Linked DNA regions of Homo sapiens. The protein of the gene in region 2 interacts with the protein of the main gene of each other region in a biochemical or structural test. Each region holds a gene or a part of one and is shown on either strand. Other genes may lie near its edges.

Region 1 (4,726 bases), on a different chromosome or scaffold from region 2:
CTGGTGCGGTCACAGCTGTTTCCACTTGTTATAAGTTGCTGTATCTAATGCACACACACGTATGTGCGCTGGGGGCTCAGTCCTAAAGTCAAATATGCACACGCAGAGAAGACAGCTGTTGCTTTGTTTTAGAGAATACTTTTTTCTTCCCGCAGCTCAAGCTGACACTTTTGGAATTGCTAGTGGAGATGCTGTTGTTAGATACTGGCTAGAACTTGTCAAGGTCGACCATGAGGCTCTCTTCATGTGCTGACCTGTGCCTATCTTTCCAACTTCATCTCTGCAACATTCTCCCTTCAGTGTTCACTGTAGCAAACACCTTGCAGTTCCCAGAAAGTGCCCTGTGTCCTGCTTTCCTCTTAACTCCCTACTGGAATGTCATCCTCTTTACTGCACACCTGGTCATCCTACTGAGAGGCCTTCCTTGACTCCCTAGCCTAAATTGGTTGTCCTTGTCTGTTCTTTCCTAACTTGTCTGCATCCACACATTGCTCATGTTGAGTTTTACCTGTGTCTGCCTTCTGCTAGATTGCAGGCCCCTGAACAGACAGTGACATGTTTTCAGGTTCAAGTCGCTGTGACTGAGTTCCCTGGACACCTAGGTGCTCAGTGGGTGCTGGTTTGTTGGACTTAGTTTCCTGCTGTGCTTCCTTACCTCAGGCATGTGTTCTGTACTGAGTGTATCTTGCCTACTCCATTCCTTTTCCACGTGGGCAACGCTGAACATTTGCCCCAGACTCTGTATCTTGGTTAATACCTGACATATAAAGTATTTAGCACATAGGCAAAGATCACTACCTCTTTCAGGAACAAAGGCCGGCTGGCGGGTGCGACTCTGGCGCATTGCCTTTGCCTGTGTGTTGCTGGCCAGTTATCGGCTTCTTGCATCACAGCTCCAGAGTCCCATTTAGCTTGACATGGGCTGGGCCTTGCAGATACTCCTCCTTCACCTCCTGACCCTGTTCAGCCAGGCCAGTAGGGGGCACTGGAGGAGGAAAGCCGCCACCCCCCCTCCTCCACCCCCCTGCCCGCCTGCCCGCCCCCGGTTCCTGTGTGTTTCTGCAGTGTTCAGATCTTGCTGGCAGTGCTCCCCAGGGCCCAGTGCGAGCGGAGACAGCGGTGGCAGCGCCTCTCAGGCGGTTTCCAGAGCGGGCCGTGGCTCCCGGGAACGGCTTCCCGCAGGTGATTCTGTGCACACTGGCCTCTACCTGGTTCAGCGGGAAGCCTCTCCACTGTCCAATGGGCTTCAGCCACACCCTCCCTAGCCGTGTCTCAGCCCAGCCTTGGGGACCTCTGTTCTAGCTTGTTCCGTCCCTGAGTGCCGTACTTCAATCTTCTTATCCATTAGTGCTCTTTCCCCGCCATGAGTCAGTTCCCGGTTCCTCAGTCTCCTGTTAATAATTCTTCATGAAACTATATTCACATCACTGTGTGGCTTCTGTGTTCTGACTGGACCCTAGCCAGTACAGGTGCCCTCTGCCTAGGCAGCTGAAGGAACCATACAGGCTTTTCGGGGGCCGGCCTAAGTGGCACCTCCGTCACTCCGCAAACATCTGAGTTCCTGCTGTCGGATAGGCACTGGCCCACCCTCGAGGAAGTGAGACCTGGCTTCAGCCCCACAGGAGCTCCAAGACTGGGAGGAGAGAAGTAATGAAGTGTGTAGAGCTGGAGAGGAGGGGTGTGTGTGTGTGTGTGTGTGTGTTTGGGAGAGTGCAATGTGACAAAAACTTAACAAAATTTTAGTGTGGTTCTAGTAGGAGCTAAAGGGACAGATAAATGAAAATTAACAAAATTGATGAATACCACTTTAAGCATAAGTGATATCCCTGATAGAAAATCTAACCAAGTGTGGTTTTGTTTGTGAATAGTCTTTCCCTTTCCACAAATCACTTGAGGTGGGTGAGGTTTTGTTTTGTCTTCTCATCTCTGAACTCCTAAAGGGCAGGGACTGTCTTTTGTCTCAATTATCTTATACTCACAATGACTATTACATACTAGATGCATAATAAATGTTAGTTTACTGAATGAAGGGTGATATAACTATTCTGTATTCCATTTTCTACTCCAAGAAAGCCGAAATCAGCCAGTGTATAGACCGCCAACTCTGAGGTATCCTTATTTCATAGACATGGAAACTGATGTTAAGGAACTTACCCAAGGCTACGCTGATAAAATGTGACTGACCCAGGCTTTGAATCCAGGCTGATACCAAAAGCTTGGCGTTTTCACTGCACTTTGCAGTTCTCACCATGAGTGGTTACTGTAGTCAATCAAGTGCCTGCCCTATTTGTGTGTGCACATGGACACACTCACCTAGGGGTCTTTTTTCCTCTTCAGAGCCATCACCATTTCTTTTAGAGTCACCGACCTCTGGCCATCCAGCTACACATGGACAGGGTTAGAAAAACTCAAGGCTTGAGAGTCGCTCTCCATTTGCTCCTTTAAGGATTCAAAAAGTCTTTTAATGAAGTGTATCCACTTGCTAGAAAATTGAACTTGGTACAAGTTGTGGAACATGTTTAGTTGCATAAAAGTTCAGTAAAAGCTAAACCTCGGGGAACGTGTGTGCTCTTCAAACATTAACTCTTGCCGTCCCTCTTTCTTCTCAGGTGCTGCTACCCCCGTATGATGATGCCACTGTGAATGGTGCTGCCAAGGAGCCACCGCCACCTTACGTGTCTGCCTAAGCCTTCAAGTGGGCGGAGCTGAGGGCAGCAGCTTGACTTTGCAGACATCTGAGCAATAGTTCTGTTATTTCACTTTTGCCATGAGCCTCTCTGAGCTTGTTTGTTGCTGAAATGCTACTTTTTAAAATTTAGATGTTAGATTGAAAACTGTAGTTTTCAACATATGCTTTGCTGGAACACTGTGATAGATTAACTGTAGAATTCTTCCTGTACGATTGGGGATATAATGGGCTTCACTAACCTTCCCTAGGCATTGAAACTTCCCCCAAATCTGATGGACCTAGAAGTCTGCTTTTGTACCTGCTGGGCCCCAAAGTTGGGCATTTTTCTCTCTGTTCCCTCTCTTTTGAAAATGTAAAATAAAACCAAAAATAGACAACTTTTTCTTCAGCCATTCCAGCATAGAGAACAAAACCTTATGGAAACAGGAATGTCAATTGTGTAATCATTGTTCTAATTAGGTAAATAGAAGTCCTTATGTATGTGTTACAAGAATTTCCCCCACAACATCCTTTATGACTGAAGTTCAATGACAGTTTGTGTTTGGTGGTAAAGGATTTTCTCCATGGCCTGAATTAAGACCATTAGAAAGCACCAGGCCGTGGGAGCAGTGACCATCTGCTGACTGTTCTTGTGGATCTTGTGTCCAGGGACATGGGGTGACATGCCTCGTATGTGTTAGAGGGTGGAATGGATGTGTTTGGCGCTGCATGGGATCTGGTGCCCCTCTTCTCCTGGATTCACATCCCCACCCAGGGCCCGCTTTTACTAAGTGTTCTGCCCTAGATTGGTTCAAGGAGGTCATCCAACTGACTTTATCAAGTGGAATTGGGATATATTTGATATACTTCTGCCTAACAACATGGAAAAGGGTTTTCTTTTCCCTGCAAGCTACATCCTACTGCTTTGAACTTCCAAGTATGTCTAGTCACCTTTTAAAATGTAAACATTTTCAGAAAAATGAGGATTGCCTTCCTTGTATGCGCTTTTTACCTTGACTACCTGAATTGCAAGGGATTTTTATATATTCATATGTTACAAAGTCAGCAACTCTCCTGTTGGTTCATTATTGAATGTGCTGTAAATTAAGTTGTTTGCAATTAAAACAAGGTTTGCCCACATCCAAGATGACCTTGTGATTTTGTGCTGATTGTGTCTGAGGACCTTTCCCTCCACATATGGTCTGGCAGATGCACCCAGTTCAGCCTAAGGAGTAGGCTTTTTTTTGGGGGGGGGAGGTCGGGTGGGGGGGATTTTTAATCTTTTAATTTTCAAGATGGTTAAAATATTGAAATGTTTAAGTGGATAACTATATTATTCATAAAATGACTGAGTGAAAACTAATACACTATGAGATGAAAAGTACTTGTCAGGGATTTTCAAGCTTTTGCTCAAGTAATTACTATGAAATAACAATTTCTAGAAATGAAGAACAATCCGTGGAGAATAAATTACCATTGGTGTGGGGGAAAAAAGCCAAACAGAAGTAGAAAAAGGTGTAGCCGGCATACAAATGTTATCTACAGTGTATTTTTAGATTTTTTATACTTGACCAGGTCTCTTATGTCCTTTTTCTGGAAAACTGTTTTTAACTACTAAAGTGATTATAAATGAAAAAGTGGCCAGTAAAGTGACTACTATCTTCAGGGCTTTAAACCAGTTGGGATAATGTGGTAAGAGAAAAAGTTGAAGGTGTAATGCTACCCGCATACCCATTATTACTGTGACTATGGCTTCACTAAGTCTTTCAGAAATAAGAAGGCAAACCATGAAAAGAAAAGAGGAGCTGTACTGCTAGCTAAATTAAGGTAGTCTGGTTTGGCTGGACTACCTTCTGGTAGAGCAAAACCGCATCTGATCCCACCCAAGAAAGATGGAAACTGGCTCCATAAGCCATCTGAGTAAAAGCTAATATGGGAATATAAGTTTTTGTCATCAGCATGACCAGTGGTGGGGCAACGAAGGGGATTAGTCCTGCCAGAGTTACATATAATGCTGGCTTTGGGCTGTCAGTTAGGTAAGTGATGGTGCTTGGTGGC
Region 2 (7,168 bases):
GACGGAGGAGGACCGAGCTGGACCGGGGAGGACCGAGCCAGACAGAGGAGGACTGAGCCAGACGGAGGAGGACTGAGCTGGACCGGGGAGTACTCAGCCAGACGGAGGAGGACCGAGCTGTACGGAGGAGGACCGAGCTGGACCGAGGAGGACCGAGCTGGACCGGGGAGGACCGAGCTGGACCAGGGAGGACCAAGCTGGACCCGGGAGGACCAAGCTGGACCCGGGAGAGGCAGAGGACAGGGAAGGAGTCAGTGGGTTCTGGGCCAGTTCTGAAGGTGAAGCTGCCATCATTTGCTGCCAGATCAGCCGTGGAAGTGGGGCAGGGGCAGGGATGCAGCTGACCTTTCCAGGGCATCACAGAGACAGATCAGCCGTGGGAGTGGGGCAGGGGCAGGGATGGAGCTGACCGTTCTGGGGCATCACAGAGACAGGACAGCCTGGGAGAGGCTCAGACACGCCCAGGCCACAGCTCAGACCAAACTCCACCACAGGCCATCGGCCCACACAGTGGGCACAGCCGCATCCCAAGCCCCGGCCTTCCCGAGACCGCCCCCACGTGCCCCACGGCCACGGCCCATGGAGACGCCATTCAGGCCACGCCTCGGGAGCCAGGAGCCCAGGCAATTAGAGGAACCAAATTCTAAACACCAACGAGACATTGCTTTGCCTCCCATCGGATCAGCCGAAATCGCCAAGGACGATGACACTGGGAGCTGGCAGTGCCGTGGGAAACGGGCAGCCTCCCTCGGCCCCTGTCGGACAAGGCTCCCGCTGTAGCTGAGCTTTCTGGAAGGTGTCGCCATCGCTTCTAACAGTGAGCGGTGACTCCAGAAACCACGGGCATGGGCCTCAGCAGGGGCCTGGAGGCACCGATGGTGGAGAGGCCGGAAAGGGGTGGCCAACCGGCACGACAATCACCAAGCACGAGCGCCAACTCATCCCAGGCTCAGCCCCTAGCACACACGGTCATCACCCCACTTCACAGACGGGACGCTGAAGCCCGGGGAAGTGACGGCCACACAGCACCTGAAGCGCGGAGCTGGGAGGGGGACATCGGCGGGACCAACTCTGGGGCTCCCCCTTAACCACTGCCTGGCGCTCGCCCTCTCTACAAACCGATACCAACATAGGGTGGGGAGACTCCAGATGACCAGAGATAAAAAGCAAGCAGTTCACAGAGTCATAAACGTGTGGCATTTCTCACCAGGGCCGTCCTGCCCCCAGGGGACACTGAACGGTGTCTGGGTCACTTGTGGCTGTCACAACTGGCAGGTGCTCCTGGCATGGAGTGGGCAGAAGCCAGGGGCGTTGCTCAGCACCCCTAATTTCCTGACTCAAAATACCTCTGCCAAGGCACAGAAGCCCCAGTGAGGCATGAAACCATCTCGGTGAAGAACAAGCAGGCCCCTTTATGTGCTCACGTCTCTGTGGCCCAGCCAGGCACAACCTAAACTCACCAGCGCTAACATCAGGAGGGATGGCGTTGGAGGAGTGAGGCAACTCTGAATTTTAAACATTCAGAAGCAGTATATGGCCAGCTGGGGTCAGATTTCTGTGGATTTCAGGGATGGGCAGAGATGCCAGACCCTGACCTTCCAGCCCTCCCCGGCCCCCCACCCCCACCCCCCCACTCCCCCGCTCTCCCACCCCACCACCATGCTCAGTCTGGAGCTGGCAACTTTATCTGTCCCCGGTGCTCCCAGAGCCCCTGATAAGATGAATGGTCGCGGTGTGGTTTTCTTTTGGTCAGCGAGTCCTGGGCTACTTTGTCTCTGACCAGCTGGGGTCAGAGGGCTGACAGCGGAAGTTGGGGGGCCCAAGAAAGGAACCCGGGCTGGGGCCTGGTGCCCTGCCTGGGTTCCTCCACCATGTCTCTTGCTGGCCAGGCCAGGACACCGGCTGCCCGCAAAGAAAGGGGCGAGGCCACTGGCTCTGGGGAAGGAACCGGGTCACCTACCAAGCGGTTCCAGATGGCCGCCGGGAGGGAAGCCACGAGTGTCTTTCAAGGCGGGGGGTGGGGGGGGGACTTGATGACTTCCACACTCTCTCTCTCTCCAGACATCTCCCCAACTCCCAGGCAGCACGCATCGCCCGCCCGCCCGCTTGCCCGCCTGCCAACCAAGGAAGCTTCGGGAGGCCTGGGGGGAGAAGGAGGACGGATGCCCGTGTGGGTGTCTACAGAGACGCTGCTGCTGGCTGCCTGGGAGGAGCAGAGGATTTTGTGAATCCGGAAACTTCCGATTTGGGAGCTTGTGACCTCGACTGAGAAGGAACTGTTCCCTTCCTCTGGGCTCTGCACACCGTCCCCACAGAAGGGAAGGCCCAGCTGCCGCCACCTACCCGGCTGGAGGTCCAGGAAGCAGCTAAAGGGGGCATGAGACAGCCGTGCCCCCCGCCCAGCCCGCAGCCCCACCAGTGTGTCCTGGGGGAAGGCTCGGGGAGAGGAAAAGGGGGCGACAGGGCACCCTGTGTGCACAGCCGGGGCGGTGGAGGCATCTTGAGATGTAACCCTTTTCCTCCCCTCATTTTAGCAGGGAGGTAAACTGAGGCCCAGGAAGGTGAGGAAAGGTCGCGCACCCGGACTCAGGTCTGGGGACTTACAGAAAGGGAGGTGACATCAGGAGGTGGGCACGCACGGCCTCAGAGACCCCCGCCTCCACCCAAGCAGCCGCCACTCACACGACGGGCAGCCCCTGGGAGCGGGTCAGGCAGAACGGGGATCCCCAGCGGCGCCCACGCCGAGTCGCCCCCGGCCCGGGAGCGGTGGGAGGTAGCCCCTCGCAGGCCTCCCGCTTCCCGGCGCGGCTTCAGCCCCGTCCTCCCCGCGGCTCCAGGGGACTGCCCCGCCCCAGGCTCCTGGAACCGGCGGCGCCCCCGCAGCGACCGTGCAGCCCCCGCCCCGGCCCCGCAGCCCCGCGACTCTCGGCGCTCGGACGAGCCCAGCGGGCCGCAGCCCCGGGAGGCCGGGCCGTTACCTGCCGCCGCCCCGCTCTCTGCCGCCCACGCCGCCTCCGAGGGCACGGCCCCCGCCTCAGCGCTCTCCGCCTCGTCCGGTACCTCCAGCTCCATGGCCGCGCGCGGACGGCGGCGGGGGCGCCCGAGGGGGACCCGAGCTGCGACCGCCGCCGCCGAACAACAAGCGCCGCCGGCCAAGGGAGGGCGCGCCGGGCCGGCGCGGGGCGGACGGGGCGGGGCCTGCGTGCGTGCGACGCCGCGGACGGCGCGCGGCCAATCGGGGCTCGGGGGCGGGGCCTGCTTGCGACCCGCAGCCAGGAGCGCCTCGAGTGCCCCCTCGCGCCCAGGGGTGGGAGTACAGAGCCAGGCTCGCCATTCCATCGTATTAGGTCAGTAAGATTGACAGGCACGATACGTATCAATAACATTGCTGTGCACAACACATACCAATAACATGGATCTACACAACACATGACAATAATATGGATCTATACAGCACGTGCCAATAATATGGATGTACACAGCACATGCCAATAACATGGATCTAAACAGCACATGCCAATAACAGGGACCTGCACAGCGCATGACAATAACATGGATCTGGCCGGGCGCGGTGACTCACGCCTATATTCCCGGCACTTTGGGAGGCCGAAGAGGGCGGATCACCTGAGGTCAGGAGTTCAAGACCATCCTGACCAACATGGTGAAATCCTGTCTCTACTAAAAATACAAAAAATAGCTGGGCGTGGTGGCACATGCCTGTAATCGCGGCTACTCGGGAGGCTGAGGCAGGAGAATCGCTGGAACCCAGGAGGGAGAGGTTGCAGTGAGCTGAGATCGCACCATTGCCCTCCAGCCTGGGCCACAGAGTGAGACTCTGTCCCAAAAAAAACCACACATGGACCTACACAGCACATGCCAATAACATGGAGTTACCCAATGCATGCCAATAACATGGATATACACAATACATGCCAATAACACGGATATGCACAATACATGCCAATAACATGGATATACACAATACATGCCAATAACATGAATCTATACTATATCATTGACATGGATCTACATAAAACATACAAATAGCATTGCTATATGCAATACATGCCAATCACATTGCTATACACAATGAATACCAATAACATTGATCTACACAATACATGTAACTAACATTGATACACACACTACATGTCAATAACATTGATATACACACTACATGCCAATAACATGGATATACACACTACATGCCAATAACATTGATATACACACTACATGCCAATAACATTAATGTACACACTACATGTCAATAACATTGATATACACACTACATGTCAATAACATTGATATGCACAAAATATACCAATAACAGTGATATACACAGTACATGTAAATAATATTGATCTACACAGGGCCGGGCGCGGTGGCTCATGCCTGTAATCCCAAGACTTTGGGAGGCCGAGGCGGGCGGATCACGAGGTCAGGAGATTGAGACCATCCTGGTTAACATGGTGAAACCCCGTCTCTACTAAAAATACAAAAAATTAGCCAGGCGTGGTGGCGGGCGCCTGTAGTCCCAGCTACTTGGGAGGCTAAGGCAGGAGAATAGGGTGAACCTGGGAGGCAGAGCTTGCAGTGAGCTGAGATCGTGTCACTGCACTCCAGCCTGGGCAACAGAGCGAGACTCCATATCAAAAAAAAATATATATATATATAGATCTACACAATACATGTTATTAACATTGATCTACGCAATACATATCAATAACATTTGCAATTAACTACCTGTTTATTATCATATTGCAAATAATATTTATATTCCATCGTTTGTATTACGTAAGTATAGATATGTTATTGTTTTCTTTATATTATTTTATCAATAATAATACAGTTTGCTATTATAAGAAACATATAATTATAGAAATACATAATAAATTATATATATTTATGCAAATGTAAGTAGCAATATTTATATCCTTCTTTTTTTTTTTTGAGATGGAGTCTTGCTGTTGTTGCCCAGGCTGGAGTGCAGGGGGGCGATCTGAGCTCACTGCAACCTCTGCCTCCAGGGTTCAAGTGATTCTCCTGCCTCACCCTCCCAAGTAACTAGGACTACAGGTACGTGCCACCACGCCCGGCTAATTTTTGTATTTTTAGTAGAGATGAGGTTTCGCCATGTTGGCCAGGCTGGTCTTGAACGCCTGACCTCGTGATCTTCCCGCCTCAGCTTCCCAAAGTGCTGGGATTACAGGTGTGAGCCACTGCGCCCGGCCATATTTATGTTCTTTATATAAGCACATAATAAGGCTTATGTTGTTTATGTTAATTTAAGTAATAACGTTTATATTATTTACATAAATGTAAATCATAATGATTATATTACCTATGCACATAAATAATGTTTGGGGTGGGCACAGAGGCTCCCGCCTGTAATTCCAGCACTTTGGGAGGCCAAGGCAGGAGGATTACTTGAGCTCAGGAGTTCTAGACCAGCCTGGGTAACATAGTGAGCCCTCTCATCTCTACAAAAAAAATTTTTTTAATTAGCTAGGTGTAGTGAGACCCCTCATCTTTACAAAAAAAATTGTTTTTTAATTAGCCAGCTACTTAGTAGGCTAAGGTGGGAGGACTGCTTGAGCCCGGGAACTCAAGGCTGCAGTGAGCTATGATCGCACCACTGCACTCTGGCCTGGGCAACAGAGAAAGACCCCGTCTGTCCCCGCAAAAAAAAAAAACAAACAAAAAAAACAAAAAGACAAATTCTGTGTGGTTCCACTCCTAGGAGGTCCCTAGAGTTGTCACATTCACAGAGACAGAAAGTAGGATGGGGGGTGCCAGGGGCTTGGGGGGAGACGAGGAGTGAGTGTTTCACAGGGGCAGACTTCCAGTCTCAGAAGATGAGAACATTCTGGAGATGATGGCGGTGATGTTTGCACAGCCATGGGAATGTGCTTAAGGCCACGGAGCTGTGCTCTTAGACATGGTGAAAATGGGCCGGGCGCGGGGGCTCACACCTGCAATCCCAGCACTTTGGGAGGCCGAGGTGGGCGGATTACCTGAGGTCGGGAGTTCAAGACCAGCCTGACTAACATGGAGAAACCCCGTCTCTACTAAAAATACAAAATTAGCCAGGCGTGGTGGCGCGTGCCTGTAATCCCAGCTACTCGGGAGGCTGAGGCAGGAGAATCACTTGAACCCGAAAGGCAGAGGTTGCAGTGAGCCAACATGGCACCACTGCACTCCAGCCTGGGCGACAGAGCAAGACTCTGTCTCCAAAAAAAAAAAAAAAAAAAAAAGAAGAAGAAGAAGAAGAAAGAAATGGTGAAAATGGGCCGGGTGCGGTGGCTCACGCCTGTCATCCCAGCACTTTGGGAGGCCGAGGCTGGCAGATCACCTAAGGTCAGGAGTTCAAGACCAGCCTGGTCAATGTGGTGAAACCCTGTCTCTACTAAAAATACCAAAAAATTAGCTGGGCATAGTGGCACAGGCCTATAATCCCAGCTACTCGGGAGGCTGAGGCAGGAGAATCACTTGAACCTGAGAGGCAGAGGTTGCAGTGAGCCAACATGGCACCACTGCACTCCAGCCTGGGCAACAGAGCAAGACTCGAAAAAAAAGAAATGGTGAAAATTGTGAATTGTATGTTGTGCGTATTTTACTACCATTTTTTGTTTTTTCTTTTTTGAGATGAGTCTTGCTCTGTTACCCAGGCTGGAGTGCAGTGGCGTGATCTCGGCTTACTGCAGCCTCTGCCTCCCAGGTTCAAGCGATCCTCCCACCTCAGCCTCCCAAGTAGCTGAGACCACAGGTGTGTGCTACCATACCTGGCTAATTTTTGTAATTTCAGTAGAAATGGGATTTCACTGTGTTGGCCAGGCTGGTGTCAGGTGATCTGCCCACCTCGGCCTCCCAAAGTGTGAGGATTACAGGCGTCAGCCACTGCAGGCGGCCTTGACCATTTTAAGGCTCCAGGAAGAGTTCTTTGGACGCAGGTCATGGACAGAGCTCCTGATTCACCCAGAATCTGTTTTGAAAAAAGATTTAGACCACTGGCTCTCAAGGTGTGGTCCCTGGGCCAGCCACATCAGCCTCACCCTGGGAGCTTGTTAGAAATGCAGGTTCCAAAGCCAGGTGCAGTGGTTCATGCCTGTAATCCCAGTGCTTTGGGATTGAGGCTGAGGCAGGAGAATCACTTTAGCCCAGGAGTTCA
Region 3 (3,582 bases), on a different chromosome or scaffold from region 2:
GCCTCACACTTTTCTAAGTCTGGCTGCCCCGCCACAAACAAGGACTTCTGGCCCCCAGCAATTCCCAGTCCAAACAGGAAGGAGGGCCTGGCAGTCTCCGGGGGTTGCAGTTGTGGCCTCAGCTGTCAGAAGTGAACCTAACCTTCCTGTGCCAGGACCTGGGTCAAGATTGGAGATGATCCCATATGCACTTCTGTATTCAGCTGTGCGGTCTTCTGACAGAGGCGGTATGTAAAGCCAAAAAGCCCCCTAGCTACTTGTCCAGGACGCCTGCTCCTGGAGTTTCTCCAAGTTAACTCTTGTCAGCAAAGCTACATGAAATTCTGTGGCACCCTGTGGCTCTGCGTCTGTCACTCACTCACACACACGTGCTCTCTCCTGACATACCTCTGGTAACTATGGAGCTAGTCCTCAAGGTGGAATTTTACTCTCATGATAAAGACAGTCTCTTCCCCCTTCTTTTCCATCTTCCTCCCATTCCCATGAGTCCTCCACACAGGTTTGTTCCTTTAAAGGTTTATTTCTGGCAAATAAAAAAAAATAACTTATGTGGTTAGATAAATTAATGTATGTGATTAGATACGACACAGGGCAGAGCTGAACGTTCCTGTTTTCTTCTGGATCTTGAAGGTTGGTGAGAGGCCGCTGAATGAGACCCAGCCTCGTGTTTTGTGGGATGAAGAGATGCAGACAAAGTGACTCAGGTACACTGATGCTCCCTGGAGGGCTGGGAGGTGGGCTCAGAGGAAGAGGCCGAATCCAAACCTTTTTTATTGAAAAGAAATAGCTCTTGTTTGTAGCATTTAAAAGAATCAACCCAAACTCTGCACACACTCATCCGTAGTGACCATAAACATGACATACCAAGCAGAGGCTCAGAAAGATGGAGCAACAGACTGAGGACATTTTCAACATGGTACTTGGGGATACCTTTGGGAAAGATGCCTTCCCCAGCAGAGGCCAGCACTGTGGAGAGATAGGACCAGAGCCACTACTGGCACAGTTGTCAAGATCTTTTGCTTTCTGAACTCTGGGGACCGCTGCCTTTTAGCCTGAGGGGAATGTCTCCAAATTTCTTGGGTTGGTAAGTCTCAGAAGCAGCCAGCCCCTTGGTCAACAGAGGGTACCTTTCCTCCAGGAATCTGAGAATGGAACATGCTGATAGTCTGTGCTGAGATCTTAAGGCCAGCATCCCAGAGGCCTTTCCAGAGCCCAGAACCTCAAAGCTGGGAGAGAAGATTCTGGGGACTATCTGCCAGGGAGGAAACCAAGGCTCCTCGGGGGTCAGCGTGTGAGTTCCCCAGGAGCAGAGACCATGGCTTGCTCACCACTTTTGACCTGTGTCTGGTTCCTTGATGAGGTTTTGGCCTTGGCATCACTTTGGAGGTGGGGTTTACTCTCTTAGGCTATGGTGAATTTTGGTTATAATTTTTTGATAAATTAGGAACAGGCTTTAGTTGCCTGTAAACACACTGACTAAGACAGCCAGAAAGCAAGCAGGTGAGAATCAGAAGAAGCTCGAAGGGTTTTCCCTGATAAAAGCATATGCCGTGAGGCTACAGGCAGCTCATTTCTTAAGGCCCGTGCATAGACTGCAGGCTGGGCAGCTGCCTCTGCAGCCGACCTGGAGGGACTGTGTTGACCGACTGCAGGGCCAACCAGGAATTGAGGAACCTGCCTGCACAGATGGCCAGGGCCACAGCTGGCTGGACACTGGCAAAACTTAAACAAGGGCTGTTCATTGAACTAAATATGACCTCAGCATCCCTATCTAAAGACTCCTGAAAGGCCCAAGTAAAATCTAAATTTTCAAATCACTGGGCAGTTCTGAAATCCAGTTCAGGTTCCCCTTTTGGCCATCGGGAACAGCAATTTCTGGCACAAAAATCAGCCCAAGGATTCAAAGCCCTCGAGGAGTAGAGGGGTGTGAGAAGAACCACATGTCAACACACCGGCTCTCTCTTCACAGAGATACACTTCTATGCTCCAGACCTGGGGCCGTTTTTACTCTGACACCACTCTCTTATTAGGTGTTCTGAAAGTTCACACTCCCAAATGAACTCATGCCTGTGTTATTTTCCTTTGAAGGACCAGAAGGCCCCCTCAGTACCATCTGAGGACACCGCAGTAGTGCCTATTAAATAACATCCAGACAAGGCATGGCCCTTCAACTATCTTATGAAATGAGAAACCACCACACCGGCCACGAAGCCGTTCACATACACATGTGCAGGGTGGATGAGGAAAGGACAGATGAGAAACTGGGACCATACCAGGTGATAACTGAGAACCAAACTCCCCAAAGCTCCCAGCACTGGACGACTCCAGAAAGGTGAGTATTTATATAGCTCCTACAAAAATAAACTTTCGATGCCTGTTCTTTAGAGTTATAAAGGAAAGGCCTTTGCATTTGGTTTGTCTCTGGAGGCTTTTCTGGTATCAAATGCAGTAAAGGTTTTAAATGACTCTGAGGCAAGGTGGAAGAACTGGCTGCCTGCCCCTGCCTTGGTCCTGGGTTTTCAGGATGGGATGGGGCACAGGCAGAAGAGGGCAGCTGCCCTGGGCACAGCATAGAAGAGCAGAGGGTGGGGTGGGCTGGGCCACAGAGGGGATCCCCAGAGTCCTGTTACAGGAGGCCATGAACACATTGTGACTCTGAGCATTGGGGTCTGACTCCTGAGTGTCTCTGGAAGCACGTGTGCCCCTCCTCTCAGTGTCCGGCCAAGGCAGGCATGAGGTGTTGGATCAGCTCCACTCAAAGAGGGCGAGCCAAGAGTGTGCCAGCTTTTCCCCAACAGGCTAGGGCTCCAGCAGCTCCCCTCCTCTTCAGAACTGGTGCCCACACACTGTCAGTGTCCTACACATACTCTCACTTGCTTTTCCTTTACAGCGTCTTTTCTCTAACTTTACTGGTCTGAAAAAAAAAAATTCTAATACGTGCAGCACTTATAAGTAACTTATAAATATGGGAAGCTGTCAGAAGTTTATGTATTTTAAAACCATGACATGGGCTAGAGTCTGGTGAAACAAGATCGGGCAAGGTCGAAAGGTGACATCTTCGGAGGACCAAAGCACCAACTTTCCCCCGTCAGTGGAACTTTGAAACTATAGTGTGGATGGAGTCCAAGACATGATAGCACACCAGAGAGAGAGAGAGAGAGAGAGGCGGAGGGTGAGTGCCTTTAACTGTTACCAGTTTTGAAAATCATGTACTTCCATTAACTTTTACCTTCCCCACTATGAATTCTTTCAAACACTCCTGCTCCCTGGCATTAGATTCTGTCCCACGAGCCATTCATCTTCCATGCACTGCCTTGGCTAAAGGTGCAGATTAAGGGTAAATTCAAGCCCTTCCCTTCCTATGGGAGGGCTCTGAAAAGGGGAAAGAAAAGAGGGGAAAAATATGAAATTCTGGAAGTGTGACATCCAGAAAATGAAAACATCTTATGTCTTATGTGATAATAAGTAAAACTATCTTGTTAAAGGTTCACATTGATTTTAGGATGCATTTAGATTTTCTGGATATTAAGACAGAAAAAAAGGCGTTTTGGGTTGGAGGACAGGGGACAGGTTTGTAAGCAG

The links. Proteins that work in one complex are often made in the same cells at the same time.
Region 1: the proteins of PIP5K1C (region 2) and LAPTM4B form a complex in vitro, tested with the Homo sapiens proteins (one study listed by BioGRID).
Region 3: the proteins of PIP5K1C (region 2) and TLN2 form a complex in vitro, tested with the Homo sapiens proteins (one study listed by BioGRID).

What each region holds. Positions count from the first base shown.
Region 1 is NC_000008.11:97,848,788-97,853,513, forward strand, and holds the end of LAPTM4B (lysosomal-associated transmembrane protein 4B), read left to right. Parts: intron 1-2,609; coding exon 2,610-2,687; 3' UTR 2,688-4,226; downstream 4,227-4,726. UniProt on the Homo sapiens protein: Required for optimal lysosomal function. Blocks EGF-stimulated EGFR intraluminal sorting and degradation.
Region 2 is NC_000019.10:3,697,319-3,704,486, forward strand, and holds the start of PIP5K1C (phosphatidylinositol 4-phosphate 5-kinase type-1 gamma), read right to left. Parts: upstream 3,151-7,168; 5' UTR 3,073-3,150; coding exon 2,979-3,072; intron 1-2,978. UniProt on the Homo sapiens protein: Catalyzes the phosphorylation of phosphatidylinositol 4-phosphate (PtdIns(4)P/PI4P) to form phosphatidylinositol 4,5-bisphosphate (PtdIns(4,5)P2/PIP2), a lipid second messenger that regulates several cellular processes such as signal transduction, vesicle trafficking, actin cytoskeleton dynamics, cell adhesion, and cell motility.
Region 3 is NC_000015.10:62,841,550-62,845,131, reverse strand, and holds the end of TLN2 (talin-2), read right to left. Parts: 3' UTR 501-3,582; downstream 1-500. UniProt on the Homo sapiens protein: As a major component of focal adhesion plaques that links integrin to the actin cytoskeleton, may play an important role in cell adhesion. Recruits PIP5K1C to focal adhesion plaques and strongly activates its kinase activity.